6 separate regions of the Homo sapiens genome follow, and all the other regions are linked to region 6. Evidence: fine-mapped expression QTL. A gene starts in region 6. Each other region holds a variant in brackets. All regions are shown on one strand. Distances are between the middles of the regions.

Evidence for each region. PIP is the estimated chance that this variant, and not a neighbour inherited with it, causes the effect. A credible set is the group of variants that fine-mapping cannot tell apart.
Region 1: its variant is the best candidate, but not a certain one, in a credible set for the expression of AAK1 in whole blood (TOPMed, PIP 0.53).
Region 2: its variant is the best candidate, but not a certain one, in a credible set for the expression of AAK1 in thyroid (GTEx, PIP 0.68).
Region 3: its variant is the best candidate, but not a certain one, in a credible set for the expression of AAK1 in skeletal muscle (GTEx, PIP 0.51).
Region 4: its variant is the best candidate, but not a certain one, in a credible set for the expression of AAK1 in nasal epithelium (TOPMed, PIP 0.84).
Region 5: its variant is the best candidate, but not a certain one, in a credible set for the expression of AAK1 in tibial artery (GTEx, PIP 0.55).

The regions. Positions count from the first base shown.
Region 1 is chr2:69,667,319-69,671,407 of GRCh38, forward strand. LOC124906149 (small nucleolar RNA U13) reads left to right here and starts at 41; the gene lies at 41-143. It also overlaps a transcript of ANXA4 not described here. The variant C/A (reference allele first, on the strand shown) is at 2,221.
Region 2 is chr2:69,591,485-69,595,573 of GRCh38, forward strand. The region is part of intron 2 of AAK1 (AP2 associated kinase 1); the gene reads right to left. It also overlaps the pseudogene RPL36AP16. Among named protein-coding and RNA genes, the nearest start is that of AAK1, 50 kb to the right of the region's middle. The variant A/C (reference allele first, on the strand shown) is at 2,392.
Region 3 is chr2:69,474,825-69,478,913 of GRCh38, forward strand. It overlaps AAK1 (AP2 associated kinase 1), which reads right to left. Exons shown (of 22, transcript NM_014911.5): 21 at 2,056-2,166; 22 at 1-1,139. The coding sequence ends at 1,045. Among named protein-coding and RNA genes, the nearest start is that of NFU1, 39 kb to the left of the region's middle. The variant T/TA (reference allele first, on the strand shown) is at 2,380.
Region 4 is chr2:69,584,736-69,588,824 of GRCh38, forward strand. The region is part of intron 2 of AAK1 (AP2 associated kinase 1); the gene reads right to left. Among named protein-coding and RNA genes, the nearest start is that of AAK1, 57 kb to the right of the region's middle. The variant G/T (reference allele first, on the strand shown) is at 1,846.
Region 5 is chr2:69,443,562-69,447,650 of GRCh38, forward strand. No RefSeq gene overlaps it. Among named protein-coding and RNA genes, the nearest start is that of NFU1, 8.2 kb to the left of the region's middle. RefSeq lists an enhancer at 1,131-1,687. The variant A/G (reference allele first, on the strand shown) is at 2,178.
Region 6 is chr2:69,641,488-69,645,576 of GRCh38, forward strand. It overlaps AAK1 (AP2 associated kinase 1), which reads right to left and starts at 2,252. Exons shown (of 22, transcript NM_014911.5): 1 at 2,088-2,252; 2 at 1,391-1,787. The coding sequence starts at 1,553. It also overlaps a transcript of ANXA4 not described here. RefSeq lists a silencer at 2,001-2,330 and enhancers at 2,411-2,680, 3,436-4,038.

The DNA of each region.
Region 1 (4,089 bases), 26 kb after region 6:
ACGTGAATACCTCGACAAAGCTATTGAAAAAAAGAAAGAGATCCTTTTGTAGTTCATGGGCATAATGATTGGTATTCACGCACATGTGTGAGATGTGCCACACTCAAACCTTGTTATGACCTCGGCACATTACCCATCTGACCTGAAAAAAAAAAAAAGGAAAGAAAAATAAAAGTCCCATAAAAGTGTTATAGACTGATTCAGTCCGATGTACAAAATACTCTGGCCTATCTGTAGAGAACTGGACAGGATATCCTGTGATGTGATGTATGGGGATGCTGTGGCAACATTTATGTCAGTTCTTCTCTCTCTTTTTTGTCTCTTTTGTCCTTTTCTTCTCCTCTCCACATAGCATGTGATCTATTCTTTATTATCAGTTATCTATTGACCCAACAATGTGGGTAACAAAGCACCTGAAGACTCATTTTTATTGCTCCCAAGGCCATGGCAGCTGAGCCATTCTTCCTGCTTAGATGGGACTTGCTGCTGCACCCGGAATCAGCAGTTGATCTTGGCTGGGCTCTCTTGTGTATTGGGGGTTGACTGGAATTTGTGGGACTAGGATGGTCTCTGCTTTTCTCCATGTGTCTTTGCATTCCTCCATTGGGCTAGCCGGGACAAGCCGTCATGCTGAGGCAGAGATGCACTAGTGAGCATGCAGAAATGCACAGGTGCTTTTCAAGTCCCTGCTCGTCTCATGTCTGATAACATTCCATTGGCCTAAGTATGTTACCAGAGGAATGTTCAGTAACAGGAGGAAGGGACAATAAAATTACAAGGCAAAGAGTGTGGAGCCGGGTAGCCTTTAATTGGGGCCATTAATACTATGCATGGACCGGTTTATAAGTCCATGCTTATCTGTTTTATAAACTCTAGGTTGTTTACTAAAGATTATGAATTCAGTCATTTCCCCTCCAAGTGAAATTTTTTTCTATTTTTATTTGTTATTACAGAAGTATAAGGAATGAGTCAGAGAACATAGACAAGCTAAATGAAGACAAAGAAGTATGATATACGGCATGGTGGCTCATGCCTGTAATCCCAGCACTTTAGGAGGCTGAGGTGGGAGGATTGCTTGAGCCCAGGAGTTAAGACCAGCCTGGGGCAACATAGTGAGACCCTGTCTCTACAAAAAATTTTTTTAAAAAAAGTATGAATTGTCCCTTTCCTAGAGACAATCACTCTTGAGATACAGTCTTCCAGGTATTTCTCTCTACATTTGTGTATAGGTAAATATACACATATATATCTTTCTCATTATATATGTATAGACACATACATGTATGTGTATAATAAAAAATATTAATTTAGAACCGTCATTTCATCTTGATGAAGTTAGGTTTCACTGAGTGATATGTAAAACTCACCTTCTGCATGTGGAAATTCATTGTCTTCAGGCACAGCCATATTACGCTGTGTATAACTCCTGTCTGTGGAATGAGACACTTTGGCTTCTGCAGCAGGCTTGCCTTCTGGTATTCACGTGGTCAGTAATATTACCACATGTCCCACAAGATGGTAAACGCTGACACACAAATGTTATATAGTCATCATGTATTTTCTTGAGAAATTAAAATTATTTATTTAAACATATACTTTATTTCCATTCCTTTTGAGCCTTTTTTTTTTTTTCTTGAAGGCAGAGTCTCGCTCTATCACCCAGGCTGCAGTGCAGTGGTGCGATCTCGCCTCACTGCAACCTCCGCCTCTCAGGTTCAAGTGATTCTCCTGCCTCAGCCTCCCGAGTAGCTGGGATTACAGGTGTGTGCCACCACGCCGGCTAATCTGGCTAATTTTTGTATTTTTAGTAGAGATGGGGTTTCACCATTTTGGCCAGGCTGGTCTCAAACTCCTGACCTCAGGTGATCCACCCGCCTCGGCCTCCCAAAGCACTGGGATTACAGGCCTAAGCCACTGCGCCTGGCCTTCTTTGAGCCCATTTTTGTCAAACAATTTATTACCAGTATAAGGGTGTAACCAAACAAATTTTTGTTTATAAAGAATCATAAGGCCGGGCGCAGTGGCTCACGCCTGCAATCCCAACACTTTGGGAGGCAGAGGTGGGCAGATCACTGGAGGTCAGGAGTTTGAGACCAGCCTGGCCAACATGATGAATCCTTGTCTCTACTAAAAATACAAAAAATTAGCCAGGCATGGTAGTACACACCTGTAATCCCAGCTACTTGGGAAGCTGAGGCAGGAGAATTGCTTGAACCCAGG[C/A]GGCAGAGGTTGCAATGAGCCGAGATCGCGCCACTGCACTCTAGCCTGGGCGACAGAGTGAGACTCCATCTCAAAAAAAAAAAAGAATCATAGATTTTACCATACAATAAATACCAAAACCACTGTAACAAGAGTGTCCATGTACCTTCTATATTCTTTATTGCAGGACTGTTCAGCCTTTATTTCCTGCACATAGTTTATATAATCTAATCTAGAATTTCTCATGTTTCCCACTGACTCTGTTGCCTGGCTGGCCTCATCCTACTGTCTTGTATACCAAATAGTTATCAGGAGCAGGCACATCTAATACTTCTCCCACCGCTACTCAAGATTGTAAAGACTTCACCTTCCTTGCCTTATTTTACTGATAAGTGCCCAGCAGACTGCCCTTGAAAGAGACTTAATAGTTATCTTGCCTCTGGGAAGAGTTGGGGGGAAAAGTACTGATCATTACTAGTGATATTCCACTTTTAACCTTGTGTCACAAACCTGTGTTTGCTGCACACGTGTCTTATACACTAGAGACAGGGTAGGAACTGAAGCACAAAGTGAAAGTTTACCAAAATCATTCCAGCATATTATAAAGCAACTATGAATATGTGGCTAAAAAATGACAAATGGCCAGGCACGGTGGCTCATGCCTGTAATCCCAGCATTTTGGGAAGTCGAAGCAGGTGGATCACTAGAAGTCAAGAGATCAAGACCATCCTGGCCAACATGGTGAAACCCCATCTCTACTAAAAACACATAAATTAGCTGGGTGTAGTGGCACACACTTCTAGTCCCAGCTACTTGGGAGGCTGAGGCAGGAGAATTGCTTGAACCTGGGAGGTGGAGGTTGCAGTGAGCTGAGATCGCACCACTGCACTCCAGCCTGGCGACAGAGCGAGACTCAATCTCAAAAAAAAAAAAAAAAAAAAAGACAAATGAGACAAATGCTAAAATAGAGATGGCGACTGGTCCACAGTAAACTTGAAGCAAGGTCACCCTAATTATAAAGCTATAGTAACTAAGACAATGTGGCATGGGCACAGGGATAGACAACTGGCAGAATAGAGAGACCAGAAATTGACCTATGGATAAATGGAGACCTGATAGATGACATATACATGGGGAAGAGTAAATAGTACTGGAAAATTTGGTTATCTACGGAAAAAATGAAAGTGGACCCTTACCTTACATCAATCATAAAAATCAATTCAGGGTCAGGCGTGATGGCTCACACCTGTAATCCCAGCACTCTAGGAGGTTGAAACAGGGCAGACTGCTTGAGCTAAGGAGTTTGAGACCAGCCTGAGCAACATAGTGAGACCCCTGTCTCTGCCAAAAATACAAAATTTAGCCAGGCATGATGGTGCACACCAGTAGGCTCAGCTACTCAGGAAGCTGAGGTGGGAGGATCACTTGAGCCCAGGAGGTCAAGGCTGCAGTGAGCCAAGATCACACCACTGCACTCCAGCATGGGTGACAGAGTCAGACTCCATCTCAAAAAAAAAAAAAAAAAAAAAAAAGAAGGGAATACCATCAATAATCAATTCAGAATGGACCTAAAATGTGAAGAGCAAATGTTTTAAATATTTAGATAATAGAATGAGTAGAATAGCTTTATGACTTTGGGGTGGAGAAGGATTCCTTAAATAAAACACAAAAAGCACAAACCTTTAAAAAATGATAAATTTGAGACTACATTAAAATCAATAACTTTTGTTTATAAAAATACCATAAAATGCATAAAATGACAGGCTAAAACTCAATCAAAATATCTGCAACTCTAGTAACAGTAAAGTTTAGCATCCTGAATATGTAAAGAACTCCTGTGAATCAATAAGAAACAACACAAGAGAAAAAGCAATGCAAAAAAGACCTGTC
Region 2 (4,089 bases), 50 kb before region 6:
AAGTTGGTTCTATAATTTTTTTTTCTTTTTTTCTTTTTCTTTTTTTTTTTTTTTGAGAGGGAGTCTCGCTCTGTCTCCCAGGCTGGAGTGCAGTGGCGTGATCTCGGCTCACTGCAACCTCTGCCTCCCAGGCTGGAGTGCAGTGGCGCAATCTCGGCTCACTACAACCTCTGCCTCCCAGGTTCAGGCGATTCTCCTGCCTCAGCCTCCTGAGTAGCTGGGATTACAGGTGCCCACCGCCACGCCTGGCTAATTTTTGTATTTTTAGCAGAGACGGGGTTTCATCATTTTGGTCAGGCTGGTCTCAAACTCCTGACCTCGTGATCCGCCCGCCTCAGCCTCCCAAAGTGCTGGGATTACAGGCGTGAGCCACTGCGCCTGGCCTGTTCTATATTTCAAACCACAAAGACCACAGCCAGTTTAATGGAGCTTAAATTGGAAAGTTGGAACAAGATGTCACCAAGGCATCTGCTGACAATTTTCCTAACACTTTTATTAATAACTCCCAGTTACCCTCTCCTGGTTCTCCTAGTCCACAGAGAGGTCAATAAGAGCAAATGAGGAAGTGAAGCAGAAGAACCAAGATCTTTCATTGCAGTTTGGAATCCAAAACTGCAACAAAAGGAAGACCGCTCCAAATTCCCAGTATCTCCAATCTCTAGACTAGAATACAATTTTCAAGAAATAGTCGACCTGAGTATTCCACTCAGCCAATGACTGGTCTCTTGTCCTGCCAGTGTTTCTTATTGGGTACTGCCTCAACTCACTTTAAGGTTTATCATACCACTGCTTCTCAAGAGAGGGTAGTTTTGGCCCAAAGAGGGCAACTGGCAATATCTGGAGACATTTCCAGTTGTCACAACTGGGGAGACAAGGGGTGCTGCTGGCATCAAGTGGGCAGAGGTCAAGGGATGCCAACATCCTAATAATGCACAGGACAGCCCCCCACAACAGCGGTCTATTCAATAAAAATGTTTGCAACTTCTGACTTAAGTGTCAAAAATAAAACTGTAAAACTGCTAAAAGAAAATTACAACTGTACTATAACTTTGGAGGTAGAGATGGTTTTCTATAAACATAACATGAAAAGAGTAACCAAAAATTTGATTCATTTCTTCCTCATTAAAATGTGAAACTTCTCTGTGGCAAATAAAACAAAACCCACAAAGTTAGTGGCAAGTGAAAAAAAGTTTCAACATCAAAAATGTTACACAAAATTCAATAAAGTTCTACCCTGAGATTCACAGTTCTACCCTGAGATTCACAGATTTGGCTTATGATAATTGGACTCATTTAACATCTCTTCTTCAAATTATGAGGCATTTCTTCACATTCATGAAGACTTACATGAATTTTGTACACTCCATGAACAAGTGAGTGTCTTAAGGCTCATCATGCCTGTGTTCTAAATAGTTGCTGTGTTAAGTTCTTCTCTTACAGAACCAGTGGTTTGCTAGTTTATAAGCCTGAATAACTTCATGCGTCACATTCCCTAAAATGCATTTTCTCATTGACTTTAGTTTCCACTGCTGCTTGCATTTTTAGTATTAAAGACTAAATTACATAAACATTAATTTAAAAGAATTATAACATCAAATATTGGCAAGAATATAGTGAAACAGAAGTGTGCTTTGATAAGATACATTGGAAGCATTCAGAAAGTAGACATCCATTGATCCAACAATTATTTTGGGACTCTGATGAAATGTAGAAGTATATATATTTAAAGATGCTTTATGCAGTGTTAATAACCAAAGTTGGAAACCTAAATATTTAGCACTAGGAAATTGACTAACTAGATTATGGTATATCCATGCAGCCTTAAAATAAACATCTATACTCAGTGATATGGAAAAATGTTCACAACATATTATTGAGTTTAAAAAAACAGGCTTTACAAAATGGTTAAGAGGGTATACTTTTTATTGTGTATTTTTACCACAAGTAAATTTTTTTTAAATAAAAAAGCAGGCTTCATGTTCTCACACATAAATTTGGTATATATATTATATAACATGTATTTTATATAATATGCAAATATATCTTATTATATACTATCTTTATACATAGAAAAGGGCTGAAGAGCTAAATACCATACTAATGTGCTAAAAGTAATTAAATCTATGGGTGATATGAGTTGTTTTATATATCTTTTCTTTCATGTTTCTAAATATTTATAATTAATGTGAATTAGTTGCAGTAAAATTTGTCAAGATAAGCTACTATTTACATCTCAGTGCTCCAAACTGTATACTGGATAAAATTCCACCTTTTCTAGTTAACTGGAGAAATCATCACAAACATTTATTACCTGTTTCTCACTCAATGCTGGGATGCCTCAGAGGCTACTAGAGTGTACAATGCTACTTCCCTCACTCATTAGGTAGCTCC[A/C]GACTGTAATCCTTTTAACTCCTCTGCCAGCTTTAACATTTCTGTCTTTGACCTTAGCGGCTCTTGCCATTGTTCTCTACTGTCAGGTTGGCGTCCTTCTCCATTTTAATGTATTGCTTTTAATTCAACAGTAAATCAAAAGTATAAGAACTCATTAATAAAAACAAGAAAGAATAAAAAGACTGAGGGAGGGGACAGGGTCTCTCCTAAGGTACAAGTTGGAATCCGCTTTTGTGAGCAATTTCTACTGCCCCCAGATTTTTCTTTGGGAAGGGGAGGGGAGGTAGTGGTATATCTCTAAATTCAAAGCTAGGTTTTAGCACAATTGTTCAACTCTCTCCACCATAACACATATATCCAAAGACATTCAAAAATAAGACATATGCCCATGGACATCTGGCACCCACATAAGGGCTCTAGTTCAAGTAGGAGGATCCTGTGGATCGTGTGTAGCCCCTTAGGGTAAGAGCTGTACCTCCACATCATTCTTTGCACTCAAGAAAACGTATCAAAATTTGAAGGACAGTCATGTTATCGTGAGGATAACTTTGAACTTATTTGTTTATATGAATGAATTTCAAAATAAATGATTTACAATTCAGTGCTTTATACTTAACCACATGACAGAGGTGTGTGGTAATACCATAGCAGAGAGCCATGTTTTCATGGTTACTACTGCCAGGAATGTGGCTACTGAAGAAATAGAACACTACTATGTCTAATTACCACAGGCCGAAAGTGAGGCCTCTTGTACCAAACAGTTAGCCAGGTTGTGAATGCAAAGAAAATGTTCTTGAAGGAATTTTTTTTAAGTGAATATAAACTCAAGGTTTTATTGTCTTCATAATAAAAGAAAAGGTAACACTTAGAACTGGATCACTTAGCCCTTTCTCTTCTTACCTCCTCCCAGTTCAGAATGCTTGCCTCTTTTAATAGCCAGCATTCTCTTAGACCTGCAGTTGGGCTCAACGCACTCAAGCCTTAGCACAATCTTCTTTGTAGTTTTAGCCTTTTTCCAGAAAATCGGCTTAGTTTGCCCACTACAGCCACTCTGCTTCCTGTCATAACGCCACTTTCCCTGGGCATACAGAGAATCCTTGCCCTTTTTACTGTGTCACTTTGTGGGGTTGGTGCTTGCCACACTTCTGACACAAGTCCAGCGGGTTTTAGGAACGTTCACCATGTTTGCGTGAGCACTATCAGCATGGAAAAAGCTAGGATTTTGTTTCTTTTTTGTTTTGTTTTGTTTGTTTTTGAGATGGAGTTTCACTCTGTTGCCCAGGCTGGAGTGCAGTGGTGTGATCTTGGCTCACTGCAACCTCTGCTTCCCAGGTTCAAGCGATTCTCCTGCCTCAGCCTCCTGAGTAGCTGGGATTACAGGCACGCACCACCACACCTGGCTAGTTGTTTTTGTATTTTTAGTAGAGACGGGGTTTCACCAAGTTGGCTAGGCTGGTCTCGAACTCATGACCTCAAGTGATCCGTCCACCTCGGCCTCCCAAAGTGTTGGGATTACAGGCGTGAGCCACTGCACCCAACCTCTTGAAGGAAATTTGAAGTGCTACATGAATGATATGGATAAAGTTTTAGTGTGCTGGATATAAGAACAAACCTGCCAAAACATTCCCTTACGCCAAAGTCTAATCTAGAGCTAGGCACCACTAACTCTCCTCAATTCTATGAAGGCTGGGGAGGTAA
Region 3 (4,089 bases), 170 kb before region 6:
ACACCTGATATCAGACTTGAAATGCCAAGTGGAAACAGAACTATTCAGCATCTTCATTTATACACAATTTACAATATTTGATTCAAAATAAAAATCACAAGAAAAATACATCTGTTTCTGCTACAATTCCTTCCCCTCCCCATCCTCCCCCCACCCCCGCCCCAGTGAAAAGTCTTCTAATAAAAGGTATCATATTACCACCGTCTTGTTTTGGTCTAATTCTGAGATCCCACTTGGAACAGTTAACATGAAAAGGAATGGCAATACTTGGGATTTATATAACGTACACATTGTATCCAAGGATCTCAAATACTTGCAGTCACGTCTCCAGATCTGAGAAATCACGGTTCAATGGAAGCCAGAAAGCTGGACGAATGCTGGGCAGGTTGCATGGGGTGTAAAATCCCTTGGCTAAGTCTATGATCAAACAAGGTCAAAGTTGGTTGGCTAGAGCTGGGCTCAATTTCTCTTCTCAAATATATACTACCAGTCAGTAAGTTTTACCCTTTCTTAAACCACACACCCATCTCCAGGCTACTGCCTAGAGTTAAGACCAACTGAAGTAGCCATGTCCTCATGATAATGCATCAGGATAAAAAGCAAAAACAGGGAAATACATTCATCAGCATCTGGCCAAAGGAGACGGGGGTTGGGAGAATTGATCTGGGAGGCCATTCCTAGCAAGAACGAGACAAAAGTGTCAATTCACTAGTTTCAGTTACAGTTAAGCTTTTGGTGGAGTTGATTCCAGCAGAGGTGAAGCTCATGGCATCTAGTGCTTGATTTAAGATAATGCTATTGAAGAAGGGTAATGAGAAAACACAGCAAACTAACAAGGAGGAACTGGCCAAGGAATATCTGGAGGGCCAAAGTGATTTTCTTTCCTTATCATTTCTACAGGAGAAGGCAAGGGGTAGGAGAAAAGGGCTGGAGGGCCCCTTATTTGCAGATTTTTTTAAAAAAATCATTTTTTTCATAACTCCGTAATGAAAATGTATTTTACGGTATGAAGGTTACAGAACTGCATCTGCTACTGGGTCACGGCTACAGGTCTATGAGCTGATCCACCAGCAGTAAAGACCTGGCTAGGTTGGGAAGACTGGACTCAGAGCTCCCACTGCTGTTTCTAGAGTGCCCACCTGGAAGTGGAGAGATAGGAATTCAGTACAAAACATAGAGGGTTAAGGTTTAGATGTGCAGAGCAAGCAAAGAAGAAAAACCAAACCAAAACCAAAACCAAAACAAAAAAAAACCAAAAAAACCAAACCCTAGAGAAGCAATATTTTACATTTGCAAACCCTTACACGTTGATTTTGAAACATGTAAGTTAGCTGTCCACCACCTCCCACCAAAAGCTCAGGCACTCTGTGCACACCACAGTATAGGTAGGACATCTTGCAAAGAGGGCACTATTTTCAAATCAATACTTTTTTTGGTTGAGAATTGCTGGCTATATACCAACTTCCTGATAATATCAAGCCATCTCCCTTTGATAAAGTAAAAATCAATAATTTTTGCTTTGGGGAGAAACTAGTTATTAAGATACTGCAATAAGAACATGCTTTAAAAAATAAATAGATGGTCCCATGGTAATTTAGTGTTTTATGGCATGTTCACATGATTTTCCTCCATCAAAGTTGAAAAAGGATGCTCCATTAATGTCAAAAAGATGTGAATGATACCAAAACACAGCTGTTAATCTCTTTGGGAAAAATATTTATTATGGATTATTCTAATCATGATAAAAAATGTGATGTGCTTTTGATATATACCTTCAGGTTTCCACTGACTAAAGATCATTTTGCTTTTGGCTTCATGGTAAAAACTAACTTTTGGCCAACTGTTAAAGACTTCTCTCTAAATAAACACCACGGTCAAACTTTAAAGATACCTATCTCTATCTATCTCTATTGGTCCAGCCTACAATGATTCTCATTACACCCAATGTCCTTCATTAAATGTTGATGCTTTTCTTCCCCCTTGCAGATTAGGTGCATGACTATTTTGAAGAGAACTGAGGCCAAGCTCTTCTCTTTTCCCCATCCTTTTTCTTACCTTGTGGGTTTTTGGTTATCAATACAGGAATAGGGTCAAACTCATCTTCAGCCACCTTGTCCGAGCCCTCAGGGACATCAAAACCTGAGATGAGATTACTATCTTCTGCAGCTTAATACAGAATGCAAGTACACAAGCAGAAACAACAGAGGCAGAGATTAGCAAATGAGAGAATGTGAAAGAGGCACAAAGATCTCAACTGTACAGCCCTGTTATTTTCAAAGGTGAAAGGATTTATCTTTCTGAGTTGAAATAAAAATAGCAAAACTGGAAAATACAGAGATATAGAAAAAAATGCTTTAGAGTTGGCCATGTTGACTTTTA[T/TA]AATGATTAGGGAAAAGGGTTCTTGGAAGAATTCTATTATTTATAAGACATTAATTATAATTATTGTGAGGTATCTCTTCATTGTCACTAATCCACAAAGGCATAGGAATAAGTCACTTGTCTTCACTGAGGGAACAGAGGCCAAACAATATTTGAAAAACTCAAAACCGGGGCTTGGGGGCAGGGCAGGGGAGGAGGAAGAGAATTGGTGGCTCTTTAAGAAGTAACCACTGTATATAATGCAAACAAAATACTGCTGGAAGGACTCACTGCACTGTGACTGGGAAAAAAAGACACTGAAACAACTCAGAAGCCTCAGGGAACGCTGAGGCACAAGATCACACGCACTGAGGCCTCAAGTAGAAGTTTGTTAGAATAGTCTTCTCCATTCTAATTAAAGCTACCCTAACAGCAAGCAAGTGCTGGCTGAGCACTTATTTTGCAAATGATGCTTCTCTGTAATTCTACATTGCTGCTGACATACTCCTGCCAGACATCACTGTCTAAATAGGTAACTTCCCTCTACATAATCTATAAAAACATAATCATTTTAATGTCATCACGGGTAAAAACAAAAACTCAGCTATTACCATTGCAAACCACAGAGGTGATTATTTTTAGTCATTCTGGGGAGGCTTCCTTCTTGAATTTTCTCCTGAAGGGACTTAAGCTCTTTCTTTTCTACACATTTTCTCTTTCCAGAAGACTACTTTCACTACCCAATCACAGAAAGTTCAGTAACAAAGTAAGCCAGGCATTGAGCCTGACACTGTCACAAACTGCTCATTGAATAGAATCTGATTCAAGCTACCTCTGTCCAGGATTTCAGACCACTATTAACCCAAGACTGAAAAATGAAAATAGTAGATTAGAAAGAGAAATCCAGTAACCAATCATGACTTGAAGGTGAACTAAAATTCAAAACTTCTACAAGTTCAACCTTGCAAGGACTGACTTTTGAGGAAAGATGCTTATTTCTTTATTGCAGTCATCACTATGCAATAACTTTGAATCAGATATGATAAAACCATTTTACATTCTAAGGCCAACAAGCATCATATGATCATTATAGGCAGGCAGTAGATAGTCACTTCAACCATCTACTTGAATTGACTGCAAAGGTATCTAGCTCTTAAAGGTAACATGGAATATCTGCATTCTATGTTCTTGCCAGAAAGCAATACTTTCACCAATCTGTTGTCTAGGGCTTTTTTCAGATTTAATTTTATTTATTTTTAGTACCTGTCTGCTATTTTTTTTGTTTTTTTAGACAGAGTCTTGCTCTGCTGCCCAGGCTGGAGTGCAGTGGTGCGATCATGGCTCACTGCAGCTTTGCCCTCCGGGCCTCAAGCAATCATCCCACCTCAGTCTCCCGAGAAGCTGGTACCACCGGTGCATGCTGCCATGGCTGGCTAATTAAAAAATTTTTTTGTAGAGACTGAGACTCCGTATGTTGTCCAGGCTGGTCTCAAATTCCTAGGCTCAAGTGATCCTCCCACCTCAGCCTCCCAAAGTGCTGGGATTGCAGGCCTGAGCTACCACAACTGGCCGGTCGTCTAAGTCTTAGTAAATATTCTCACTGAGAGGTATTATAACACAGTATCTAGGAGATACTCAAGTTTTCCATACAAGGAGGTAGTTTTAAAACTTCACTAGTAAAGACTTTTGATAAGAAAAACTTTCAAAAGTTGTTTAGTTCTTTCCCCTCTA
Region 4 (4,089 bases), 57 kb before region 6:
CTCAGTAAGATCCCAGGTCAGCATCAAGTCTTTGAACTCCCTCAACCTTCAACCCCAGGCACTCAGAGACCTCGATTACTCACCAGGAAATCTAAAGCCTTCCACCTCACTTCCAGTGCAGCATCCCCACTCTGGTCTCCCTCCTTCTCCTAGAGCTTTCCACACTCTAAAAATCACTGTTCCCTTTGCCCAACAACTACACTGCCTTTCTTACCAATCTGTTTTTAGGGATCCTGGGTCTCATACCCATCTCATATCTGTATGAATAGTCTACAGTGAAGAAAAGTCATCTACATACATGTTCCCATTTCCTCATCACAATAAACCCAAATTATCATTTTGTAGATTCAAAAACTGAGGTCCAGATAAGTGTTATCCAAAAAAACTACATAAAAATTCAAGCTTTAATCGAGGATTATAAGAAGAGACTATTCTATGAAAAGGAGAGATCTATAATCTCCAATTGGCATAACATATAAGAGATATTCTTTTTTAAATTAATTTTTTGTAGAGATGGGGTCTCACTTTGTTGCCCAGGCTGGTTTCAAATCCCTGGCTTCAAGCAATCCTCCTGGCCCGGCCTCCCAAAGTATTGGGACTACAGGTGTGAGCCACTGCGCCCAGCCAGGAGATATTCTTAAGCTAGAGGTCCATGTCCCCACACCACCCCAACTCCCCAAGGACCTCTGGTTAACATTTATGCTTCGGCACTGAGTTTTCCAAGTTCTGACCCTGGACTGGGACAGTAGTTATGTTGGCCCCTGGTTCCAATGGGCTGGCCTAGGAGCTTGGTGCCTGTCATCACTGCAATTCTCAGACTCCAATACCTAACGCTACCCTCCTCTCCAGAGTCCTGTCCAAAGTCCTGTATCTCTCCTGCATCGTTAAAGGCAGCCTTGAGTTCTAAAACCTACTGAAAAATACCAGAAACCAAATTTAAGAATCACTTACCCAAAAAGTATGTTTGGACTAGATCAAAAGTTTTACATATGATGTGGCATATGGTACTAGGAAAAGAGGATGACCTTTCAGTCAGTAGTTTCCAGGGTTTGATTTCTAGCAATGAAACTTGTTTACATAAACTTGAGAAAGTTACTTAACTTCTTTAAGCCTCAGTTATTATCCATATTTTACAGATGTGGAAACTTTCTCCCCCAAAGCTATTGAAAAGCACTAAAGAAAAAAATATACAAAAATTGGCCTAGCACAGTGCTGGGCAAACAACTCTTCCCTCCACCTTCCCTCTGGCACCACCCTCTGCCTGATTGGTGCGGAGTGCTCCCTGCCCTCCGCACGTCACTGCCCCAAGGGGTCTGGGAAAAACTCCGAAAAATATGCAGTCTACAAGAACACTGTGAGATGAACCGGAGGATTATGAACTCATTAAAAAGAATAGCAAAGAGATCAGGGTGACCACCAGTGGGGCAGGTTTTGTCTAAGCACTGCATTTCTAAAATAATCATTATGCAGCTTTTTCAGGCCTTTTCCAGGTGAGATGCTTAAAAATGAACTGAGAACAAAGCAGTCAACTGAAAACCTGTGGGCCTATGAACCTAAGGCAAAGTGGGTGGTTGAATACCAGGCTGGTAATGAGGCAGAAAGGCAGGCAGGGGACTTTTGGCACAAGGTAACCATGGGCTTTGGAGGCAACTTACCACAGTGTTGAGGAACCATTTACAGAGCTTCAGGAGCTCAAAGAGGGCCTGGCAATGACAATATTCAAAAGGCTTAAAAACACAAAAGACGTCAGGAAACCTGGGTTCCAATTGTGGCTCTGCATTAACCAGCTATGTGATCTTAGGCTAAAAACTCTTCAAAGACAAGGAAAGTATTTTTCTTTGCATT[G/T]TCTGAATCACCTAGAATAACAAAGTCAATGCTCGGTAACTACTGAATGAAGGAGTGTCTGGCTTCTGAGATCTCTGGGCCTTAGTTTTCTCTCCTATATCACAAAAGAGTTGGAAAGATTATCCCTAGGGCCACTCCCGGGCTCACATTCATTCCATTGTTCTTTAGACACAGAAAAGTTTCTCAATTCTAACAGCACATCAGAATCACCTTGGAAGTTTTTAAAAAGATAATTCTCCAGTTTCCCAGCTGGAACATACTGAGATTCAAAATCCTTAGGGTGGTGGGTTTGGGTCGGGCGGAGGGTAAAATCTGCACAGGTGAGCCTAATAGGCAGTTAGCTGTGAGAACCAATGCACCATGCTTTCAAATGCAGTAATCTTCTAATCTTCAAGGAACAAGGGACTTGAGGCTGGGTCCTTCTTCCATATCTTCTGCCTTTCTGCCCAAATCAGCAGCTTTCATTTTCTAAAGCAAACCTGCCTCATTTCTTTTCTTTAAAAAAAAACTTTTTTTTTTTTAAAGACAGGGTCTTGTTCTGTTGCCCAGGCTGGAGTACGATGGCATGCTGACAGCTCGCTGCAGCCTCGACCTCCTGGGCTCAAGCAATCCTTCCATCTCAGCCTCTCGAATAGCTAGGACTACAGGGGCTTGCCACCATGCTCAGCTTATATATATATACACATGTGTATATATACACACATGTATACACACGTATATACGCATGTATATATACGCACATATATACACATATGCGTGCACACACACATATATACACATATGCGTGTACACACACATATATACACACACGTGTGTACATATATACACATGTGTATATATACACATATATATACATATGTGTATATGTATATATGTGTGTGTATATATATATATATATTTTTTTGATGTCGTTTCGCTCTTGTTGCCCAGGCTGGAGTGCAGTGGCGGGATCTCGGCTCACTGCAACCTCCGCCTCTTGGGTTCAAGTGATTCTCCTGTCTCAGCCTCCCAAGTAGCTGGTATTACAGGGGCATGCCACCATGCCCAGCTAATTTTTGTATTTTTAGTAGAGACTGGGTTTCGCCATGTTAGCCAGACTGGTCTTGAACTCCTGACCTCAGGTGATCCACCTGCCTCAGCCTCCCAAAGTGCTGAGATTACAGGTGTAAGCCACTGCACCCAGTTGCCCAGCTAATATTTTTAAATTTTTTTGTAGAGACAGAGTTTTACTATGTTGCTCAGGCTGGTCTTGAACTCCTGGGCTCAAGTGATCTTCCTACCTTGGCCTCCCAAAATGTTGGGAGTTACAAGCATAAGCCACCATGCCAGGCCTCATTTCTTTTTTCTTTTTTTTAAATTTTTTGTAGAGACAAGGTCTCACTATGTTGTCCAGGCTGGTCTTGAACCCCTGGCCTCAAGCGATCCTCCTACCTCAGCCTCCCTAAAGTGCTGGGATTACAGGCATGAGCTACCATGCCCAGCCAAACCTGCTTCATTTCTAAGGAGCAAGACTTTGGAGTTAGATAAGGGTTCAAATCCCACAGCCAACACTCCATAGTAACGTGACCTGAGTTCACATATAACATGAGCAACCATCCCCTGTTCCACAGAGGTTATTGTGAAGATTATGTGAGACAGCATCATAAAGCACCCGGCACACATCTAAACACAGAAGCTCTTAACAAATGTTCATCCCTGTCTCCTCCACCCCCTTCTTTCCTAAGTAAGGCCCATCAGGTGGGTACCTGACATCACCTGCACCTTCAGAAAAACTCTAGTTATGGGAACTTTTGCTGATATAGGACATGCTCCACTTTCAGTATTTGTCACGGACATCAGTTTCCCCATCCCTTATAGTAAGAAAGAAGAGTAAACCCATTCCCTTAACTAAGAACTCCCTCTCTGTTATAACGGTTTGTTTCAGCAGTAGATGGCTACAGGTGACGCAGGTATCCAGAAATCCTGCCCTCCAAATGATCAAAGCAGGCCTAGTCCTGGATGCCTGTGACATCTGAGTGTATCTGAAACCATCTGTGGGTGCTAAGCTAATTGCATCATTTTGTTACTCCTCAGTTCTTACATTTGTTTTATACTTGCTACCACAGCTACATGATTTTTTTTTTCTTTTTTTAATGGAGGTTTTTATGATGTCTCCTTTAAACAGGCTGGTCTTATTGAGTTCCTCTGCATTATTTATTTTTATCCAATGGCACATGTGATCTGTGGATCAAGGTTTACTATTGT
Region 5 (4,089 bases), 200 kb before region 6:
GGAGAGATTAAGCTGAAGGAAGATTTTGTGGTAAGGGGTGATATTGTGGGGTTGTTAGAAGAAACATTTGTTGTATAGAAGTATTGGTGATGGCCTGGATATGGTTTTGCATGAATTAAAAAACTAAAAGGAATAAGAGAAGGAGAAAAACAGGTATTAAAGGACTAAGAATTGGGAGGACCCAGTACATCTAATTAGAGAGTGCCCAAGGAGGTTCAGCATAGCCCTGCCAGCAAAGATTATTTATTTACTTTAAGAAGGAGTTAAGAGTGGCGGTTTGGAGATAGCACCAGGAGATATCAGCTGTGATGGCTTGGAGAAACAGTGTAAACCGGCACTGTAAACAAGAGCAGGGCATTTATGTGTAGTTGAGAATGGTGAATATGAGTATGACCAGACAGAAGATAGTAGGGATGACAAGTTTTTTGGGGTACAGTCCAAGTTGGTATGGTGTCTGGAATGAGACTGGGGCCTAATAAAAAGGAACGTCTATACAGGAGCTCAAATGGGCTGTACCCTGTAGCATTCCAAGGACAGGCCCAAATTCTGAGAAAGGCAAGTGATAAAAGTATTGTCCAGTCCTTTTTAAGTTGGTGGCTGAGCTTGGTGAGTTGTGTTTTTAAAAGACCATTAGTCCATTCTACCCTTCCTGAAGACTGAGGACGGTAAGGGATATAAAGATTTCACTGAATACCAAGAGCCTGAAAAACTGCTTGGGTGATTTGACTAATAAAGGCCAGTCCGTTATCGGACTGCATAGAGGTGAGAAGGCCAAACCGAGGAATTATGTCTGACAGAAGGGAAGAAATGACTGCGGTGGCCTTCTCAGACCCTGTGGGAAAGGCCTCTACCCACCCAGTGAAAGTGTCTACCCAGACCAAGAGGTATTTTAGTTTCCTCACTGAGGCATGTGAGTAAAGTCAATTTTCCAGTCCTGGGTGGCCCCGAGCTTGATATGTAGGCCTGAGTAATCCCTGAAGAGTAGTAGAATAGCAGATGGAACACTGAGAAGTGATTTCCTTGAGGATAGATTTCTACGATGGAAAGGAAATGAGAGGTTCTAAGAGATGGGCTAGCGGCTTGTAACCTACATGGAAGAGGTTATGAAATGACAACAGAATAGAATGGGCCTGTGAGGCTGGAAGGAGACCCTTGGTCCAAGAACCATTTGCCTTGTGTGGGAAAAGATTGATAGGTGGAAGTTTCAGTTGGGGAGTAGGTGGGAGTGGCCAGATGAAAAGGAGAAAAACTGCCATGAGGGATAGAAGTTGGAACTCTAGCTGCTTTTTTAGCTACCTTATCAGCATAAGCATCATCCTGAGCAATGGGATCTGATGCCTTTTGATGGCTGCTTTTTAAGCTACCTTATCAACATACGCATTGTCCTGAGCAATGGGATCTGATGCCTTTTGATGGCCCTTGCAGTGAATGACTCCAGCCTCCTTTGGAAGTAAAGCAGCTTTGAGAAGAGTTTTTGTTAAAGAGGCATTAATAATGGAGGACCCTTGCATAGTGAGGAAATCTCTTTCAGCTCATGTAACAGCATGGTGGTGCAGGATATGGAAGGCATATTTAGAGTCAGTATAAATATTGACACATAATTCCTTTGCAAGGGTGAGGACTTGAGTTAAGGCAATGAGTTTGGCTTGCTGAGAGGTAGTGTAGTGCAGCAGAAAGTATATGCATCAGGTGTGAGGAAGAAAATAGATTTTGGAAGTTATGAGAACTGTAGAGAGTGAGTTGAGCATAGTTTGTGATTTTGAGGGCCTCTAAAAGTATTAGGGCGGTGGCAGCCACTGCACAGAGACATGATGGCCAGCCTAAAACAGTAAGGTCAAGTTGTTTGGACAAAAAGGCTATAGGGCATGGTCCTGGTCCTTGTGTAAGAATTCCAACTGCACAGCCCTGCACTTTGGCTGTGTGTAATGAAAAGGGTTGGGATGAGTCAGGGAGAGCTAACGTGGGGGCAGTCTCTAAAGCTATCTTCAAGGAATGAAAAGAGGAGTGGGGAAAGGATTTAGGATTTATGGGGTCAGCTAGGTTTCCTTTTGTGAGTTTATATAATGGTTTTGTTAGGATGGCAAAACCAGGTATCCAAAGGTGAAAGTATCCAATCATGCCTAGGAAGGAAAGGAATTGTGGTTTTGTAGAAGGTGTTAGGGTTTGAGAGATCAGTC[A/G]GACACGATCAGCAGGGAGAGCATGTGTGTTTTTATGAAGAATTATGCCAAGGTAGGTAACGGATGGAGAAGAAATTTGAGCTTTGGAGAAGGATACCCGATATCCTTTGGAGAATAAATGTTGAAAGAGCAGGAGGATGTCTTGTTGAGAAGATTCAAAGGAGGGGCTACAAAGTAGAAGGTCATCAATATATTGAATAAGGTGAGCAGCGGAGGGATGGAAAGAAAGTAAATCATGAGAAAGAGCTTGGCTGAAGTAATGAGGGCTGTCCCTGGAGCCTTGTGGCAGTACAGCCCAGGTAAGCTGCTGAGACTGATAGGTGTCAGGATCAGTCTAGGTAAAAGCAAAGAGAGGCTGGGACAAGGGGTGCAGGGGAATAGTGAAAAAAGCATCTTTAAGATCAAGAATAGAATAGAGAGTTGTGGAGGAAGGTATTGAGGACAAAAGAGTGTAAGGGTTGGGCACTACAGGGTGGATAGGCAAAACAATTTGGTTGATAAAGTGTGCATCCTGAACTAACCTGTAAGGCTTGTCCGGTTTTTGGACAGGTAAAATGGGGGAATTGTAAGGAGAGTTTATAGGCTTTAAAAGGCCATGCTGTAACAGGCAAGTGATAACAGGCTTTAATCCTTTTAAAGTGTGCTATGGGATGGGATATTGGCGTTGAGCGGGGTAAGGGTGATTAGGTTTTAATGGGATGGTAAGGGCTTGAGATCGGTTGCCATGGAGGGAGTAGAGGTATCCTATAATTGTGGGTTAAGGTGGGGAGATACGAAAGGAAGACACGAAGGAGGCTTTGAACTGGGGGAAAAGGCAGCAATGAGGTGTGGCTGTAGCCTAGGAATAGTCAGGGAAGCAGATAATTTAGTTAAAATGTCTCAGCCTAATAAGGGAACTGGGCAGGTGGGGATAACTAAAAAAGAGTGCATAAAAGAATGTTGTCCAAGTTGGCACCAGAGTTGGGGAGTTTAAGAGGTTTAGAAGCCTGGCCATCAATACCCACAACAGTTATGGGGGCAAGGGAAATAGGCCCATGAAAAGAAGGTAATGTGGAGTGGGTAGCCTCCGTGTTGATTAAGAAGGGGACGGGCTTACCTTCCACTGTGAGAGTTACCCGAAGCTTGGCATCCATGATGGTCTAGGGGGCTTCCAAGGTGATTGGGCAGCATCAGTCTTCAGCCGCTAAGCCAAGAAGATCCGGGAAGGAGTCAGAGAGCCTTGGGCCAGAGTTCCAGGGGCTCTGGGAGTGGCTGCCAGGTGAGTTGAAGAGTCCGATTTTCAGTGGGGTCCCACACAGATGGGACATGGCTAAGGAGGAATAACGGGCTGTGGGCATTCCTTGGCCCAGTGGCCAGATTTCCAGCACTTGTAGCAAGCTCCTGGGGGAGGAGGTCCTGGAGGAACACGTGGCTGCTGCGGTTCAGGCGTTTTGAAGTTTTTGTGTGCTGGAGATGTGGCTGGGGTTTCCCTCACAGTGGAGGCAAGGAATTGCAACTCAGAAATACATTGCTACTTGGCTGCCTCTACTCTATTATTGTACACCTTGAAGGTGAGGTTAATTAAGTCCTGTTTTGGGGTTTGAGGGCCGGAATTTAATTCTTGGAGCTTTATTTCTAATGACAGGAGCTGACTGGGTGATAAAATGCATATTTAGAATGAAACAGCCTTCTGACCCTTCAGTGTCTAGGGCTGTAAAGAGTCTAAGGGTTGCTGCCAAACAGGCCATGAACTGGGCTGGGTTTTTATATTTGATGAAAAAGAGCCTAAACACTAACCGATTTGGGAAAGGTCAGATAAAGGAAAGGAGCATTAACCTTGACTATGCCTTTAGCTCCAGCCACCTTTCTAAGAGGAAATTTCTGGGCAGGTTGGGGAGGGCTAGTTGCAGAACAAAACTGTAAGCTGGACTGG
Region 6 (4,089 bases):
GCAGCTAGAACAGTACTGAGATTGGAAGAGCAATAATTTCACATGGACATTAACTGTCAGAGATCTTTTTTAAAAATCATGTTTTTAAAGTACAGACTTCAACTCTATTCCCAGAAAACTGGGCCCTGCTGAATCCAGTGCTTACACAAGCTGAGAGCCAAACACAGCTTCTTCCTCTTCCAAACCCACCCACCAGCCCGCAACATCCACCATGGTAAGCATTTCCCAGGCCCAGGTCAGGACCCTTGCTTCAACTTTAGCTTGCAAAAGGCCCCTTTTTAAAGAGGCCTCTTAGCTTTCTCTCTTCCCTTGCTAATAAAACTGTTCCCTACCATCACCATGTTGCAGTAAGAGAGACCTCTCCCTTCTTCCAACCCCTCTCGGTCTATAACACAACCTACAGCAGGTTGGCCCCATCCAATCAGTCTGAATTGCTTCATGCCAAGGAAATTGCTGCTTTTATTAAAAATAAAAGCACACTAGGCAGGCGAAGGGCTGTGAAAAGTATGAGTCTGGCATAATTATGAAGGTCGAGGTTAAGGTTACCAAAAGAGACATGCAAAGATTTCCCGAAAGCCTGGGGGAATCAAGATGTATATCTACGTGAGTATAGACACACAGATGAAACACAGAGGGAATTTATGCAGCAGATCTAAATAACATCCTCTCTGATAGCGAAAAAACAAAATCAGAGCCACTCTCAAGTAATTTTTCTTTTGATTAAAAAAACAAAAAACAAAACCTAAAGCGAGAAGGAAGAGGGGCCTACTAGACTGAGTTCAAAATAACCACATTTGTTTTATGTAATTTCTGTTATCTTTGCTATAACCTGGGGACCTGATTACAGTTGGGTCAGGAAACAAATCTACTAGTGAAATCCACCAAGAGCCTTGGCCCTTGGAAAAACACGTTCACGTTCTCCGAAAATCCTCTCTTCCTTCCAATGCCTGCTCATGGAAGTGGGAAAGTTGGGTAGGAGAAGGAGAAACCCCTCTCTTCTTAAAAGTCCCCCCACCCTTCAGCCTTCACATCAAGATTTTAAGTTTTAGGAGGATGACAAGCCCATCACCCTGCCTTTGGCATAAAGCTTTACACTTTCACACATACGTTTTCTTGTGTGATCCTCAAAATTTGGCTTCTCAATATTAAAAAAATAAAAATAAAAGGCCACTAACGTAAACAATTTCGGCAACCTCCCCACACCCCCATAAGCCCAGTCACTTTCAAATCTCAATTTTAAATCTCTCAAGGACAATGACTCACAGGGCAAGTGAAGGGGGAAGGGAGGGTCAACTGGTCAAAGCCCATTCATACATGCAACAACTAGAAACCACAGTATTGCCGCATCAGCACAAGATTTTAATTTACGGCGCATTGAGCCCCACCGTACCTTCCGCCAACACCTCGTCCACTGTGACCTGCTGTCGCCCGATGCCGAAGACTCTTCCGATGTAGCCACTGCCCAGGCCCGAGGTGCTGCCCCCTCCTCCGCTGGAGCCGGAGCCCAGGCCAGAGCCGCCCTGCTCTCGCCGGGAGTCGAAAAACTTCTTCATCTTGCGAATAGGGAGCAGCAAAGCAAAATACCGATGGTTTCTAGATTTTTTTTTTTTTTTTTTTTTTTTAAGAAAAGAGATCCAAGGATTTCTTCTCAGATTTCACCTCGGAGAGGAGCCACCCGAATCCGGCCGTGGGGGTGGGGGCTGAGGGAGGATGCCTATAGGAATATGCGTGTCAATCGCGCAGCGGGTCCCCTCCTCCTCCAGAAAGCGATTCGTGTAAGTTTAAACCTGTGATGACAGAGGAAGAAAGAGAGGATGAATCAGTAACACGCTTAAAAATTCAACCGCTGAGTCCTAGGGGGAGCAAAAGCCATCATCCTGGGGAAACGCTTCATGTATTTTCCCGGCGAGAAAAACCGTGGGGCTGAAAACGCGACCCCGGCCCCAGAACCCGGGACCCCCGAGCCGGGAGCTCGGAGAAAGGAGGGATCCGAGCTGCTCCGGCAGCGCCGACCCTCCCGGGCACTGCCTCCCGCTCCTCCCGGGTCTCCCCGCCGCCCCTCGAGGCGGCATCCTGGCAGCACCCACTTGAGACGGCTCGGCGGCCGGCGCCCTGCTACCAGCCCCGCGACATTGTCACGGCCGCCGGGCCGGCCTGCGACGCAGAGAAGAGGCGGCGCTGCAGCGAGAGCCGGGGCCGCGCTCGGCTCCCGCCCGCCCGCCAGCTGATCCCGGGAGCGCCGGGCGGAGACTGACCCGCCGCCCCTCCCCCGCGCGCGCTCCCGCCCGGCTCCATCCACCCAACCAGGAAGTGAACCGCCGCCGGAAGTGCCCCTCGGGGCGGCGCGGCGAGGGACCGGGGCCTCTCCTGCAACCGCCGTTCTGTCGCCACGGATGGGAAGGAGTCGACCGCGAGAAGAGGACTGGGGGAAGAGGGTCTCAGTGCAGACAGAGTTCTGGAAAAGACTGTTGATATCACCCGAGCCGCAGGGCAAGCTGGGAAAGGTAGCTCGGCACAGTCCGGCTGCTGGACTACAAATCCCAGCATACTCCTGGAGGAGAGGGCGAGGCGGCAGCCGTGTGGCCTCCACGGCCTCGAAGGAGATTTGTGGGGTGGCGCGTATGTGGGGACTCGGCAATTTAAACACATCCCGTGAAGAAACTGCCAACAACTAAGTTCCCCCCCCCCCCCCCCCGCTGTATGTTCCACCCTTCTGGAGCCATCTTATTTGCGGCCTGGCCTCCTGGCACAAGGGATTCTGGAGGTTGTGGTTTCCGAACGGATCGAGACTGACACCTGAAGGACGCGGCTTAACCGCTTAGCCCCTAGCGGGTCCTGTGGGTTTCCCGACGTCTCCTGGGCTGAAATGGAAGCGAGAAGTGATCGGGAACATTGTGCTGGCAGTTGGATCCGGCTGCACCGAGCGCCAGCCTTGAAATAAGTAAAACCGATGCCCTTCCGCCCCTAACCTCAAAAGCTGCTTTTGCGTCTCGATGTTATTGAGAGCCGGCTCTGCGGTCAGCTCTGAGCTAGGCGCTGTGAGAACGCTCAGTAAGACAGTGTCTCGTCTGGAAATGTACAGGCGAGATTCAAACCGAGAAACTGCCAAAGGTTGTGTGCAGGGCAGATCCTAGGATACCGGAGACCCAGCCCGTTGGCTTGACCTCAAAACTCGGGGGCTTTTCGGCCCATGCTGTCCCTTAATTCCTCCTCCTTTGCTGACGCTGTGGGTGCGCATCAAAGCCTAAACTTCACTAGCTCCCTTGCACACAAGAACACTAACCCTAACCTGACCAGTTATTTATTTTTCACTTCAAGATTCTTCCATTGATACTTACGTTTCCCTGATACCGTCCAAGTGCTGAGGGCGGGGATGGACTGTGTGATTTGCATCTGCCAAATGCAGAAAATTTGGAAGGTCAGTTGGTACACTTTTCCGACCTAGATTTCCTGATGGATGATGCTGAAGAGTGGCAAGTTGCTGCCAAAAACAAACAAAAAAACCTACCATGATTTATTAATATTATTTTTCTAACCCCTGAATATGGGTTATTGTTCATCTCTGCCCGCTTTCCCCACTCCCTAGTGCTTGTCTCAGAATTTTTTTTTCAGCGGGTATTTGAGTAGAGAAGGGTGTCCCAGGGAAAAAAATGGTTCTTGCTTTCTCTAATCTGAATATTGAGCTGAGCTGTGACTGGGTTAACAGTAGCGTTTGTTGTTGCTGCTGCTGCAGCTTGTTTCAAGTAGTGCCATTGTAATTAAACTCCGTGAAGAGATAGCATCTTTTCTTCCGGAGAGAGTCAGTGTTGTCACCTCAGTTCACGAATTCATGTAGCCACCTCCAGGGTGAAATGCAGCCCCTATTCCCTCAAACTAAGCCCACGAAGGCATGTTCTCTGCACTTTCCTTAAAAGGCCAGATTTTTGTCTGAGGAAGTTTGAAGCAGATCTTAAAATAGATGAGAAAGCTCATTTGGAATTAGACTCATTGACCCCCATTTCTCTCAGCACTTATTTGTCTTGACTGACTTTTTTAAACAAGCTGTGCTAGGTCCTAAAATCAATCTGATGCTATCTCAGTTTTTACCTT